Regions from separate parts of the Homo sapiens genome. Here regions 1 and 2 are each linked to region 3. The links come from fine-mapping of genetic effects on gene expression. A gene starts in region 3. Each other region holds a variant in brackets. All regions are shown on one strand. Distances are between the middles of the regions.

Region 1 (4,197 bases), 57 kb after region 3:
AGAAAGAAAGAAAGAAAAAGAGGGAGGAGGGAGGGAGGGAGGAGGGAGGAAAGAAGGGAGGAAAAAGACGGAAGGAAGGAAAAGAAAAAAGAGAAAGAAAGAGGGAGACAGAAAGGGAGGGAGGGAAGGAGGGAGAGAAAGAAAGAAACAAAGAGGGAGGGAGGGAAGAAGGAAGGGAAGGAAAGAAGGGAGGAAGGAGGAAAAGAAAGAAGAAAGGAAGAGAAAGAAGAAAGAGAGAAAGAAAGAAAATGAAAGGAAGAAGAAAAAAGGAAGGAAGGGAGGGACGGAAGGAAAGAAAGGAAGAGAAAGAAGAAAGAGAGAAAGAAAGAAAATGAAAGAAAGAAGAAAAAAGGAAGGGAGGGAGGGAAGGAAAGAAGGAAGGAAGGAGAGAGAGAGAAAGAAAGAAAAAGAAAGAAAGAAAGGAAAAAGAAAGAAAGAAAAAGAAAACTTTGAGAAGATGACTACATTTTCCAAGTGAGCTGATGAGCCGCCGCTTGTAGGAGGGTGCCTTGATTCTCCCATTTGTAGATAACAACACTGAGGCTCAGAGAGTTGGAACGATTTACCTAAGGGTCACATAAACATGTTTTTATCTATGTCAGTCAGTGTCTTCCCCTCAGAAATTAGATTTGACTTTATAATTTATTCTCACTTAATTTCCTAGTACAGTTGTAACGGATTTTAAGTTAATAGCTTTTTCTCTTCTCTTTCCCTTTTTGCTTTCACTTATCAAAATTGTCACAAATCTTCAACACCCCAAAAAAGGCATACTATTTCTTCACGGAGAGGTGGAAAGAACATGAATATTGGAATGAGACAGACTCGGGTTTGAATCTAGGCTCTGCTTCTCATTAGCCAGGCAACTTTGGGCAAAGAACTTAATTTCCATGAGACTTAATGCATTTGCAAAGTAAGGTCAATAATATCTATTAATGCCTTCTAAAGTTATGAAAATGAAGGATAATATATGTGGAGCACCTGGCTCTGTGCTTGGCGCCTTGTAGACACTTTATAAATGATAGCTGAGTGTTGTTGTAGTTATTGTCATCATTACTATTATTAATAAGTTGAAACAGGAGGATAAAGAACCACAAATTTTGTGGGTTTTTTTTTTTTTTTGAGATAGAGTCTTGCTCTGTCGCCCAGGCTGGAGTGCAGTGGTGCGATCTTGGCTCACTGCAACCTCTGCCTCCTGGGTTCAAGCGAGAATCACAAATTTTGGCTGTGTTACCTATCACTTGGTAAGCGCTAGTGAAACTGGACTGGCAGGTCACTTGTGAAGCCAGCATCAAAAGGTCTTTCCCTCAAGAGACCACAAAAACAAAATATTGAAGTCAGCAACTTCCACTTCTGAGGTGAGGCATTGAGTAGATTCAACAGTCCCATCCAGGTGTGACATTTCTTTTTAGCATCAGCTTCACTGCTCATGACTCACTAAACTTGGAGACAAGGGATAGGAATTACTGAATTTGTCATAGCATCTCATGAATGAATGTGTATGGTAAGGACAAAAGGGGCTGAGAACCAAGCCCTGTATTGGGGTGGGGAAGGGAAAATGAAGAACTTAAAACTTCAATAAAGAGAATGAGGAAGGATCTGAATCAAGCAAAGTACAGGGGCGAAACCTGCCAGCTTGTGATCGAGTCATGGCGAGAGCTTCTTAACTCAGTTACGTCTAAAAGAAACACCAATACTTGGCGTCAGTCTTCAGTAGATAAGAAATGTGGGGGAAAAAAA[T/A]AATAACCAGGAAAGACACAGGGTCAGAGAGCTGGGAGGGAGCTCAAGGTCACCAGTGTAGTCATTTTTATACTGTGGCCCCAAGTCTTCAGAGGTGCTTCCGAGACACCACAGATCCTGAAGGATTCCTTGCCAAGAGGATGGCTTGCTGTTTCGGGAACCTATACAAGCTTTTGTTCTGTTTTTGTTCCAGTTCTAAAGAATTTAAACACCAGTGTTATATACCAATGCCTGTCTTTTACAGACGAGAACCTGAAGTCCAGAGAGGAAAATTAACTTGCTCAAAGTAACACAAGGGAAGGCTTGGGCCTTCAACCCGTAAGTCTTGCTCTATCCCCAAATAGGAATGTGAGACAGACACACTGGCTATTCATTCCAGTTTATACATGATGCCAGATGTGGGGCTCTACCTCGCCTAAACTTAAAGGAACTCTTCTTTTTTCTGGAGACAGGGTCTCACTCTGTTTCCCAGGTTGAGTGCAGTGGCAGAATCACAGTTCGCTGCAGCCTCAACCTCCTGGGCTCAAATGATCCTCCTGCCTCAGCCTCCTGAGTAGCTGGGACTACAGGCATGTCCCACCACGCCCGGCTAATTTTTTATTTTTTGTAGAGACAGGGTCTCTCTACGTTGCCCAAGCTGGTCTCAAACTCCTGAACACAAGCGATCCTCCCTACTCAGGCTCCCAACATGCTGGGATTACAGGCATAAGCCACTGTGCCAAAGTCATAATGAGAGGCCTTCTCTTGTCATTAGGAGGTGAGGTTCAGTAGGGCTTCAATGTCTGGGCAGTGGAGGGTTCCTGCTTCCTGAAAGGCGACCTCTTAAAATAGCACTTGTTTATTTACACCAGGACTGACCTCTCATCTCCAGCCTCCTGATCCATGCTGGTCTGGCCCAGTTCCCTGTTACTTTCCAGCTCTCACCTTTCTGCCCCTCTAGGCTTGTCTTGGGCCCATAAACTATAGGATTGAGTGAGAAGTGCCCGGATTTCTCCATTCCCTGTTTTACTGGCTGTCATTGGGCCTGAATGGGCTCCACCTCCTTGGAATTCCCTAATGCAGCTAATTGATTCCATTCATAAGAGTCCCCAAGTTCTTAAAGCTGGAAGAAAATTTTGAGACCATTTCATTGAGTCTCCTAATTTTATAGATGAAGAAACTGAGGTCCGTGTGATTCACACAAAGTCACGTGGTCATATCAGGATTCAAATTCATGTTTTGTAATTCTACATCCAACACCCTTTCCGATAGCCATACCATCATTCTCCCATTTAATTCAATTCAGTTTAAATCAAAACATACCTGTGGAGGCTGGGAGTGGTGGCTTAGGCCTATAATCTCAGCACTTTGGGAGGCTAAGGCAGGTGGATCACCTGAGGTCAGAAGTTTGAGACCAGCCTGACCAACATGGTGAAATCCCATCTCTACTAAAAATACAAAAATTAGCCGGGCATGGTGGTGGGTTCTTGTAGTCCCAGCTACTCGGGAGGCTGAGGCAGGAGAATCGCTTGAACCTGGGAGGCAGAGGGTGCAGTGAGCCCGTAGTTCTAGCTACTGAGGAGGCTGAGGTGGGAGGATTGCTGGAGCCCAGAAGGACGAGGCTACAATGAGTCGTGATTGTGCCACTACACACCAGCCTGGGTGACAGAATGAGACCACTGTCTCAAGAGGAAGGGAGGGAGGGAGGGAGAGAGGGGGGAAAGAAGGAAGGAAGGAAGGAAGGAAGGAAAGAAAGAAAGAAAGAAAGAAAGAAAGAAAGAAAGAAAGAAAGAAAGAAAGAAAGAAAGAAAGAAAGAGGAGTGAGCACATGGAAAGAACCTGGTTCCTGGATGGAATCATTCCTGAGCTGCCACCCCAGCCCTAGACTGCCTGTCCCCACACTTCTTGTTGCATGAAATAAAAGAATCCCTCTTTGGTTCAGCCAAATAGCAGCACTTCTCTTATATGCAGCTGAACACAATTGTGAATGGCTCATGGGCCTTGAAAAAGTCTTGGGATTTCAACAAACAGAGGCAGAAGACAGTGTCAGGAAACGCTCAAGACAGGGAAAGCTGGGGGCATGTTCTTGACAAAGCAGGCGGAGCAGATAGGGAGGTCAGAAGAGACGTTGTGATAGGGACAGAAGACCAGGGAGGCTCAGAGGATGGATGTGGATTTCATTCTGAAAGCAGGGAAGAATTGCTGGGGGAAGTGAGCAGTGCTGTTCTTGGGGAGTTGACGCTAGTTCCTTGGCACCGAGTGAGCCTTGGGCCCCCGGATGAGCAGGCAGGGCAGCTACTGAGGAGCCTGGAGTGAGAGTGGGTGGCCTATTTCATTCCAATCTGCTGTGCTTGTATTACATTCCTGTTAGCTTAGTATCTGCACAGAACACCAGGGACCGCAGTACCGCAAACTCTTTGGCATTCTGAAGGCCCTGCTCTCGCTGTGTCACTTTCCTCCCACTGGCAATTACCAGACTGG
Region 2 (4,168 bases), 45 kb before region 3:
CCTCAAGTGATCTACCCATCTTGGCCTCCCAAAGTACTGAGATTGCAGGTGTGAGCCACCACGCCGGCCTTCTTTTCTTTTACTGGTTTCTTTAGGTTTATAATACAGATCTTTAACTTGTCACAGTCTATCTTCAATTAATATTTTATTACTTCATGTATTATATAAGAAATTTACATCAGTGTTTTTTTTTCCTTCCTGGCCATTGTGTTATTATTTTCATACATTTTACTTCTACAATGTTGCTATTATTTTTGCTTTAAATGTAGAGGATGCCACCACTGAATTTCTTAGTGATGTTGATGCCTCTGTCACTACTCATTTCTGATGGCCTTGGTGAATGGTGGGTGGGTCCCCTGGGCCCTCTGAGGGAACACAATCCTTTGGAAGATGTCTCCTGGCCCCTCATAATATGTCAACCCCAGCACGCCCATTTCCCTGAGCCTTTTAATTCTTTCCTCTATCATGCAGCATAGGAATTCAGCCATTTCAACTGTACTTAGCGTAAGTCATCACTTCTTCCAGATGTTTGGAGCCACTAAGCCAGTTTGCACCAGCTCTCAGGATCCTCACCTGGGTATTAAATCTCGTATCACAAAAGAATGGCCCCAAGTCAATAAATTCTTCATTGTTTAGGCTCCTGTTATGGCTTCCTTGATTAAGCACCCTCAAATCCACTCCCAGAGTTCTCCCGTGATCCTGCTGTCACATGATCCTAGTTTTTCGGATCCTTTGGACTATAGTCTCTTTATTTCTTTATCAGATATGGCACATCCCCAACTGAGTTACACTGCAACTTAACATGACATCAGCCTGGAGGCCAAGAGAAGAGGCAGAAATAAATCCTGAGTAGGGCCCCTGCTGCAGGAGAGAGAATTCTTCAGTGTCTTCCCATATGGGATAGGAGGTGGGGAGAGAAGTTACTGGATCTTAATAGGAAGGAGGCCAGGCCTGTCTATGGGCTCTGAGGGTCCAGAGGAGTTTGGAAGTCAAAACGTTTGAGGGCATCCACCCAGATGTACCCAATCCATATTGCCTGGGATAATATGGGATGAGGATGGGTTCAAGGCAGCTGGATGGTAAGTGATTCAACCCCAAATCCCTAATTTACTGACCGCTTTTTTTTTTTTTTAAGAGATGGGGTCTTATTGTGTCATTCAAGCTGAAGTACAGTGACACAATCATAGCTCACTGCAGCCTTGAACTCCTGGGCTCAGGCAACAAGCAGTACAGAAAGCCTGCATTTAAACACTGGCGACACAGAGACCATCATTGGCTGCATTACATCAGCACCAGTGATACAGACAACTGTCACTTTTCTTCTTCTCTCTCTGCTCCAACTCTGAGGGATCTAGCAACTCCCCAGTTCGGGGAAGGAAGGGAAGGAAGGTGAGAGATGGACAGTGCCTGCTCTGCAGGCGTAAGTAAGGCCTGCGCTGCACCCAGGGGAGAAGCTTTGAGCTGGATGTGAGGTTGAGGTTTCTATTTAGATTCTACTTGTCTCCTGAGTTCAGAAAATGAGGCAGAGTTGTCAAAATGGGATTAGTCAGCACAAGCGACAGGAAAGCTAATGGGATTTGTTTGAGGTTATTTTAAGGGACAAAGGCTGAGGAACCATCAGAGTGTGTATAAAGGCAGAGAAGGTTCAGGTTGAGTTAACAGCGCTGTGGCTGGCGGAAGGACGCATTTGCTCCTGGCCACAAGAGGAGCGTGGAGCCCCATGTGAGCAGAGGCTGGGCCACCCCCGGGACCAGCTCTGCCAGAGGGTTCCAGCAAAAACTGTGACGTCCCCTCTCACTCTGATGCATGTAGAGAGGCCTGAAAAGTTTGCCCAACCACACAGAGAATGTTTGAAGCCTTCTGTGACCAGGAGCTACCTCCCAAGGCAGCCTCATCTATTTTTGGACATCATGTTAGAAAGTTTTCCTAAACTGGCTTGAAATGTTTCCCTAGTTTTGCATCTACAGCCTTGCAGATCAAGCCCACTCCCTTTGGACATTGAAACACAGAGAACATGGCCTCCTCAAATTTATTCCCTGCTCCAGAAGGTCACGGCCACAGCCTCCTCTCTCCTTCACCACCTTAGGTGCAACAGCAGTCAGGTAGAGTCGGTGCTGTGTGATCGCACTTATTTAACATTTATTTTGAGTTAGGGTGTGAGTGCTGGGGCAGGTGACTAACCATCCCCTGCCCTCTGTGGTGGCCTGAGAGAGAAGCAGGAATGCCCCGTGCAGGTTGGGGATCAGCAAACAGTCTAGACCAGCTTCTCTCCTGTATCCCGTTTGGAGAGTCCCTGGGTCAGGGGCCAGTCCATCCTGCAGCATTGAAGGGCGTGAGGAATGAGCAGGGCTGTGGGGCTCACAGAGCAGGCAGCTCTGGGGAGAAGCGGCCAGGGAATGTGCAAAAGTGATCAAGTCATAGGACAGGGTGGACCCAGCCCCAACCTGGGGGAGAGGAGAGGGGGATGTGCTGGAGCC[T/C]GGAGGTCCATGTCTGGCAGCCTTGGGAGATGGAGAGGGTTTCCCAGGCCGGACAGCATGGGCGGGGGGTTCATTCCATGGTGAGCTCTCCCTGCTCCGTGTTGTCCAAGTTTGTACGGGAGGCCACCAGCGCCCTTCATTCGGCTACATCGATGGACAACATGGCCTTGATTGCAGGGAACTTGTTGCAGGAGAAGTCGGCGAGCAGTTGCTTGGTGCCACTCCGGGAGGGCAGGATATCAAAACGGACCCGGGACCCCTCCTTGGGCCCTAGGGTCGGCACGCTGATGGGGAGGGCACAGATCAGTGTTGATACGAGACACACGGACCTTGGGCTGGACGGGCCTCCTGTGACCTCCTGTCCTGTTCTGATGGAGGCTGGGCAAGGCCACTGCTTCTTTAGCTCCCTCTAGCTGTCTCTCTGGGTTACGGGGCCCCTCCAGCCCTGGAACTCTTCAGCAGGGGAAGCAGGAGGGGGGGGTCCCATGATCTCCCAAATATTCTAAGCCCTGAAGGCCAGCTCTTAGCTCTGGTGACCTGTTCTTCTCAGGAGTTCAAGTTTGGTGAACCCCCAAACCAAATGCAAAAGCAGATTCTAGAGTTCCAAGACCCCCAAAAGAGTAAAGAACCCAAGGTCAGAGGGAGCTCTGTCTGTCCCACCCAGGGGATCTGGAGGGCCCCCCCGCCCCCTCCCGCCCTCCTGCACCGGCCACTTAGGCCCAGGACTCACTCGATCTTCAGGTTACCCAACAGCAGGCCGCTTCCCTCCACCATCAGCACGCAGTCCCTCACCGGCTCATCCAGTGGATTGGAGAAGAGCATCTGCACGTTCACAGGCTTCCGCACACGAGCCTCGTTCAGCACCTATGGGGGAGAGGGGCTGCCGAGTCAGGACTCCAGCTGCTCAGCCCCTGCCTGCACCTTGGTGAGGGCTGGGCAGGGTGACTGAGTGAAGGGGGTGATGTCACTGAGGATGAAGAAGGGGAGACCATTTAGCCCTCCTAGGTGCCAGGCACATTGTGTCTGACGCCCCCTGCCCCCCAATACACAGGATGGTCCCAGGACATTATCCTGTGCTGTGGATGAGAACCTCAGCTTTGAGGGGGAAGGGGCCCCCTGCAGCAGCCAACAACACTGTTACTTCCCTGCCCCGACTCCAGTTCAGACCCTGCTTCCCAGGACAGCCCAACCCCACTGTGGGCTCTGTGAGGGTCAGGACATTTTTCATGCTGAATTTATTTTTTGCAAGGACAGGGTCTTGCTGTGTTGCCCAGGCTGGCCTCGAACTCCTGGCCTCAAGTGATCTTCCTGCCTTGGCCTCCCAAAGCACTGGGATTACAGATGTAAGTCACTGTGCCCAGCCACTTGCTGGGTTTAATATTACTTTCCTTGGCTTTCCTGCTTATGGGTCCTGTTTCTTCCCTTAAAGCTTGAACCTCCGTCTCTGGGAGGCCCCACAGGTGTTGAAAAGGGCAGCCCCAGGCCCCACAGCTGCTCACACCCTGGCTCACACTGTAGCTCCCTTAACTCTTTTTCCAGGGGTTGGGTCCCCCCAGCTCAACCCAGGCTACTCTCCTCTGCTGACACCCCAGTCTACCAATGTCCTTCTAAACTTCTAGAGCCCAGAGGTTCCCTGTGCACCATTTATAGTCTGAGCGGAGCTCTAATACCACACGGTCCTTGCTCAGTGA
Region 3 (4,191 bases):
AAGACTAATCTCCTTCTCTTGTTGGTCCCCGTAGCACTTGTTTTGTATTTGTCATGCAGCTTAATAACAGTCTGCCTTGCATGCTGCTCACCTAAAAAACCGGTGGTACCAAAAAATATCAGACTAAAAGCTACCGAGGACAGAACCACATCTCATTCACCTCCATATTTCCCACTGCACCTGGCACAGCTCTTCTCCCTTAGGTGTTCAGTGAATAAATTCATTCATCCAAGAAACACTGATTGGGAACTTCCTGGCTGAGTGACTCGGAGCTGAGCTGGGAACTGCAAGTGGGACAAATTTAAGGGACTGAATGTATTCGCCTGTCTCTCCACCACCTTTTCAAAATTGATTTTCTCCCCACCAGCCTCATTCTGTTGTGACTTTAGAACATCTCTGGTTGTTAACAGAGACATTTAATCATGCCTCACAGCGGGCAGGCCATTCCTGAGAGTCCACGGGAGGTCCTGCACAGGGATGGGAGGTGCACATTCCTGGGGGCTGGGCACGTGCCTGTCCACTCCCTGGCTCTGGTTTCTTTTTGTGGAGAAAGAAAAGTCGGTACTGGAAGGAACCTCAAAACGCATTCATTTCAAAGCTTTCATCTTGAAAACTTGAGGCTCAGGGGTGGCAGAGAACACACAAGCAGTTGGTCACAAAGCTCAAATGAGAAGCCAGGTTCAGAATTGCTTTTTTATGTTCCAGATGTTATGTGCACTTATGTAGGAGCTCAGCTCTGGCAGCAGGACATGGTGGAAAGGGCACTGCTGAGACCTAGCTGGCTCTGCGATGGATTCACTGTGTGTAAGGTTCCACCCCTTCCTGGGCCTCAGCCACCTCCTGGAGGGAGGGAGATGGGCTAGATGACATCTGACCTCCCCTCTTGCTGCAGTGTGTAGGGTCCAGAGCTCCTCTTCTTAGCATCCCAGCCATGCTGTACATTACAGCAAGGAATGGGAGACAGGGGAGGGGGCCTAATGTGCAATCACCTGTCCCAGTTTTTGTGGCTTCTGAAGTAGCCAGCATTTGCCTGTTGCATTTGGCTCAGTGATGTCTTTGGCCAATCTTCCAGCAGCCCTAATCGCCATTCACAATATTTTACAAGTTTGACTCATATCTTGTTTGGATTTGGCGTCCCTGTCAACCTACTAGGCTGAGCACACAAGACAGATAATAATTAGCATGCTGCTTAGCAGGGGTGCTGATTAACAAAGGCCCATATCCTCGACAGTAAGCATAGAGTGGGGGAACCTGCACTTCCTGTTGTTCTTTGTAACCCCTGTTCCCTGGTGCTCTCCTGTGGACCAGGACATCTTGTGGCACACCTGCTCCTGCTACGGGGAGGCTTCAGCTCATCAAGTCACTTACACAGAGCCTGTCTGATGCTTCTGATGTGTAGCTTACTTAGGAGCATTCCTAATGCTCCTAAGTAAGTTGATTTGAAATAAACAATGGTTTCTTTCAAATCAACTTACATGTTACCACTCTCACTCCCTGGTAGTTCTGAGATGTGCTTCTTTGCTGACACTGCTGACAGCTGGATACAGCTACACTGAGAAACACGAGACCCGAGTCCTGTCTGCTTTGGCTTTACGGGTGGCGACGGATGTGTAAAAGAAACGCAAACACAAACAAGGCAAAGCTTGTCCTCTGCCTAAGGAGATGCGATGTCCAGCTGCACTGAACACCCTGCCCATTATTCAGAGCTACATTCCAATGATGTTCTACCCCAAGAATATGCTAGAGGGACCCAACCACCACTGAGAAAGAGCCGCCTCTGGCTAGCACCCTAAAATAGGAAGTCTGGCCTTCAGAGCCCCCAAGGCAGGCAGCTGTCCTGGCCGGACACTCTGGCTTGGCAGGCTGGCCCAGGGGAAGCACAGGCTTCTGGCAAGGACCTGATGGAGAAGATGCCATGCACTCACCAGCCATGTTTCGCCTTCCTCTGCCTCTTCTCAGGCTCCTCTGGGAATGGCACGGACAGTGCTGACAGACAGGCTGCCAAGGATTGCCTTACCATTTATAGAATCCTCTCCTACACACCCCAATTAGAATTCTAATGAAGTGGGCGAGGCACCAGGTCATTCCTGTAGTGCCTGTAAACGTTTCACTTACGACAGACTTGTCACCCAATGGACGTGCATCATGTTTGTACAAGACCAGCTTGGGGAGAAGGGGGCAGATAATAAAGAAACTCAAATAGTTCGCTTTTATAATTTTATAAAATGATGGACTATTTCCTGGATTGTAGGGTTTAGGAAATGATGACATGCTTTTCTTGCTGATCCTGGGAAGTTCTCTCTGAATCAAAGAAACGTCTCAGCAGAACCCAGAAGAAGAAAATTGTGAGGTCCTTTCTCATGATACACATGTATTAGCATCTTCCACTTGCACAGGGAAGTGAGACACATCACAGTTCATTTGTTTAGGGTTGTAGTGTGGCATAAACCATCATTTGATTTGGAATTAGAAGCCGTTGGTTCTGATGCTGGCCGAGCCCTGGGTGGTCTCCAACCCTTGAAGCCCGGAAGCCTTGCTTGTGGTTGGGGATAATCACTCCCACCCCTCTCAACTCACAAAGCTGTGGACACGATCACATGAGATGGTGCGCATGGGAAGTGTATGCATATCTACCAGGGCAGGTTAAACTGAGATCACACTTGGCGTTGAATGTCAGTTTCAGTCCAGATTTGGGGGAAAATTGTTGTTTTTAATGAGGCAGCAGGAACAGCCTCTAACCTTATGCTTCTGCCATGTCTTTCTCAGACTGCAGGTTCCGTCACTGACCCTCACTGGGCCCACCTTGACATCAGTTTAAAGAAAGGGTGTGGAGTGGGGAGAAGCTCTGACATTCTACGTGTTTTTGTTTGCTTGCTTGTTTCTAAGGGCGTATGTTTTTTCAAAGTTCCTATTATCGATATTTACAAATATCAAGGTTTACGATGGACAAAGGAGTGAGTATATATTTTTTAAAGTGAGGCTTCAAGGATTCACGAGAGAACAGAAATGCCCCAAGGCTTTCCCCAGCATCACAGTGTGGAAGGAAGATTGAGCACCATGATGACAAGGTTGGGTCTTTAGAGAGAAGTGAGAATGTTTGATCTCGAGAAAGAGAAGACGGAATAGGCAGGTGGCTTGGAAAATTGAAAAAGAGAAATCAGTGTCCTTTCTCCGTCCTTTAGGCCCCTACAGCCTTTTGTACATCTTAGAACCTCTATTACCGTATGTATCCACTGCACTGGAACTATCTGTTTATATATGTCCCCATCTCCAGACTGAGCTCCTTGAAGGTACAGGTTGCATATCATTCAAATCTTCTTCTCAGAATCTAGCACAGGGCTTGACACGTGGCTGGAACATGCACATTCTTGAATAAGTGAATCAATATCACTGTAAAGATGGGAATCATAACTACCGATTTAGTGCTTACTAATAATAACTAATTGATTTAGTGTTTACTGTGGGCAGGCACTGGCTAAACACTTTACATATATTAGCTTTTCTCATCTTCATAGCAACCCTATGCAAAGGGGCTATTATTATTTCCATCTTATGGGGGACAGAGAGATTAACCTGAGTCTCCAACCACGAGATTCATACCCATATGTAAATGGCTCCAGAGCCTGTGTTTGCTTAACCTTGGAGGTCAGCGCCTAAATGAGGCAGCCTTTCCCAGGCCTCTGGGGCTCTAAGACAGCTGGCTGTGCACCCATGCCAGGCAGAATGGGATGCACTGTTGGCTCTGGCAGATGACTAAGAAAAGAGCAGAGGGTAGAGAGGGACATGGAAAGAGCCTGGACCCAAGAGGAGACTCATGTGTGGTCTTGGCTCCTACCACGGGCACTAGCTGTGACTCTGGGCGAGGCCTCATGACGCCAAGTTCATCCTGCCAGAAAGCTGGAGGACAGCTCCATGAATGGCATGGGATGAATGGGTGTGAAAGTGCTCTGTATGCTTCTGTGTGTGGTCTAAAGGAAAGGAGGGGTTTTGCTTATTATTGTGGTTGTTGCTGTTGGCCTGGGAGCCAAGGAAAATCAGACCCCGGGCACTCCTTTCAATGACCTGACAAGGAAAGCTGCAGAGGTGACAGGGAGGTGGTGCTCCCCTTAAAAGGGAACCTGAAGACACACAGTCTTGGCTCTGCCAAGTCTCCTCACCTCTCGTAGGCTTTGTTTCCTCAACTGTAAAACT

Alleles and levels. Positions count from the first base shown, and alleles are read on the strand shown. Sizes are in standard deviations (SD) of each study's normalised expression. Not every link is listed here.
In carriers of allele T in region 1, the expression in esophagus mucosa of the gene that starts at base 1,995 in region 3 tends to be higher than with A alone (small effect, 0.11 SD a copy in GTEx).

What was found.
Region 1: its variant is fine-mapped to the expression of TGM3 in esophagus mucosa (GTEx, PIP 0.94).
Region 2: its variant is fine-mapped to the expression of TGM3 in whole blood (TOPMed, PIP above 0.99).

Annotation. Positions count from the first base shown.
Region 1 is chr20:2,237,205-2,241,401 of GRCh38, reverse strand. No RefSeq gene overlaps it. Among named protein-coding and RNA genes, the nearest start is that of LINC03086, 32 kb to the right of the region's middle. The variant T/A (reference allele first, on the strand shown) is at 1,738.
Region 2 is chr20:2,339,027-2,343,194 of GRCh38, reverse strand. TGM3 (transglutaminase 3) reads right to left here. Exons shown (of 13, transcript NM_003245.4): 12 at 3,208-3,341; 13 at 2,116-2,761. The coding sequence ends at 2,614. Among named protein-coding and RNA genes, the nearest start is that of TGM6, 40 kb to the left of the region's middle. RefSeq lists an enhancer at 3,010-3,510. The variant T/C (reference allele first, on the strand shown) is at 2,478.
Region 3 is chr20:2,293,805-2,297,995 of GRCh38, reverse strand. It overlaps TGM3 (transglutaminase 3), which reads right to left and starts at 1,995. Exons shown (of 13, transcript NM_003245.4): 1 at 1,926-1,995. The coding sequence starts at 1,932. It overlaps LOC105372503 (a long non-coding RNA gene), which reads left to right. Exons shown (of 3, transcript XR_937203.3): 2 at 706-804; 3 at 1,502-2,175. RefSeq lists enhancers at 225-757, 758-1,291.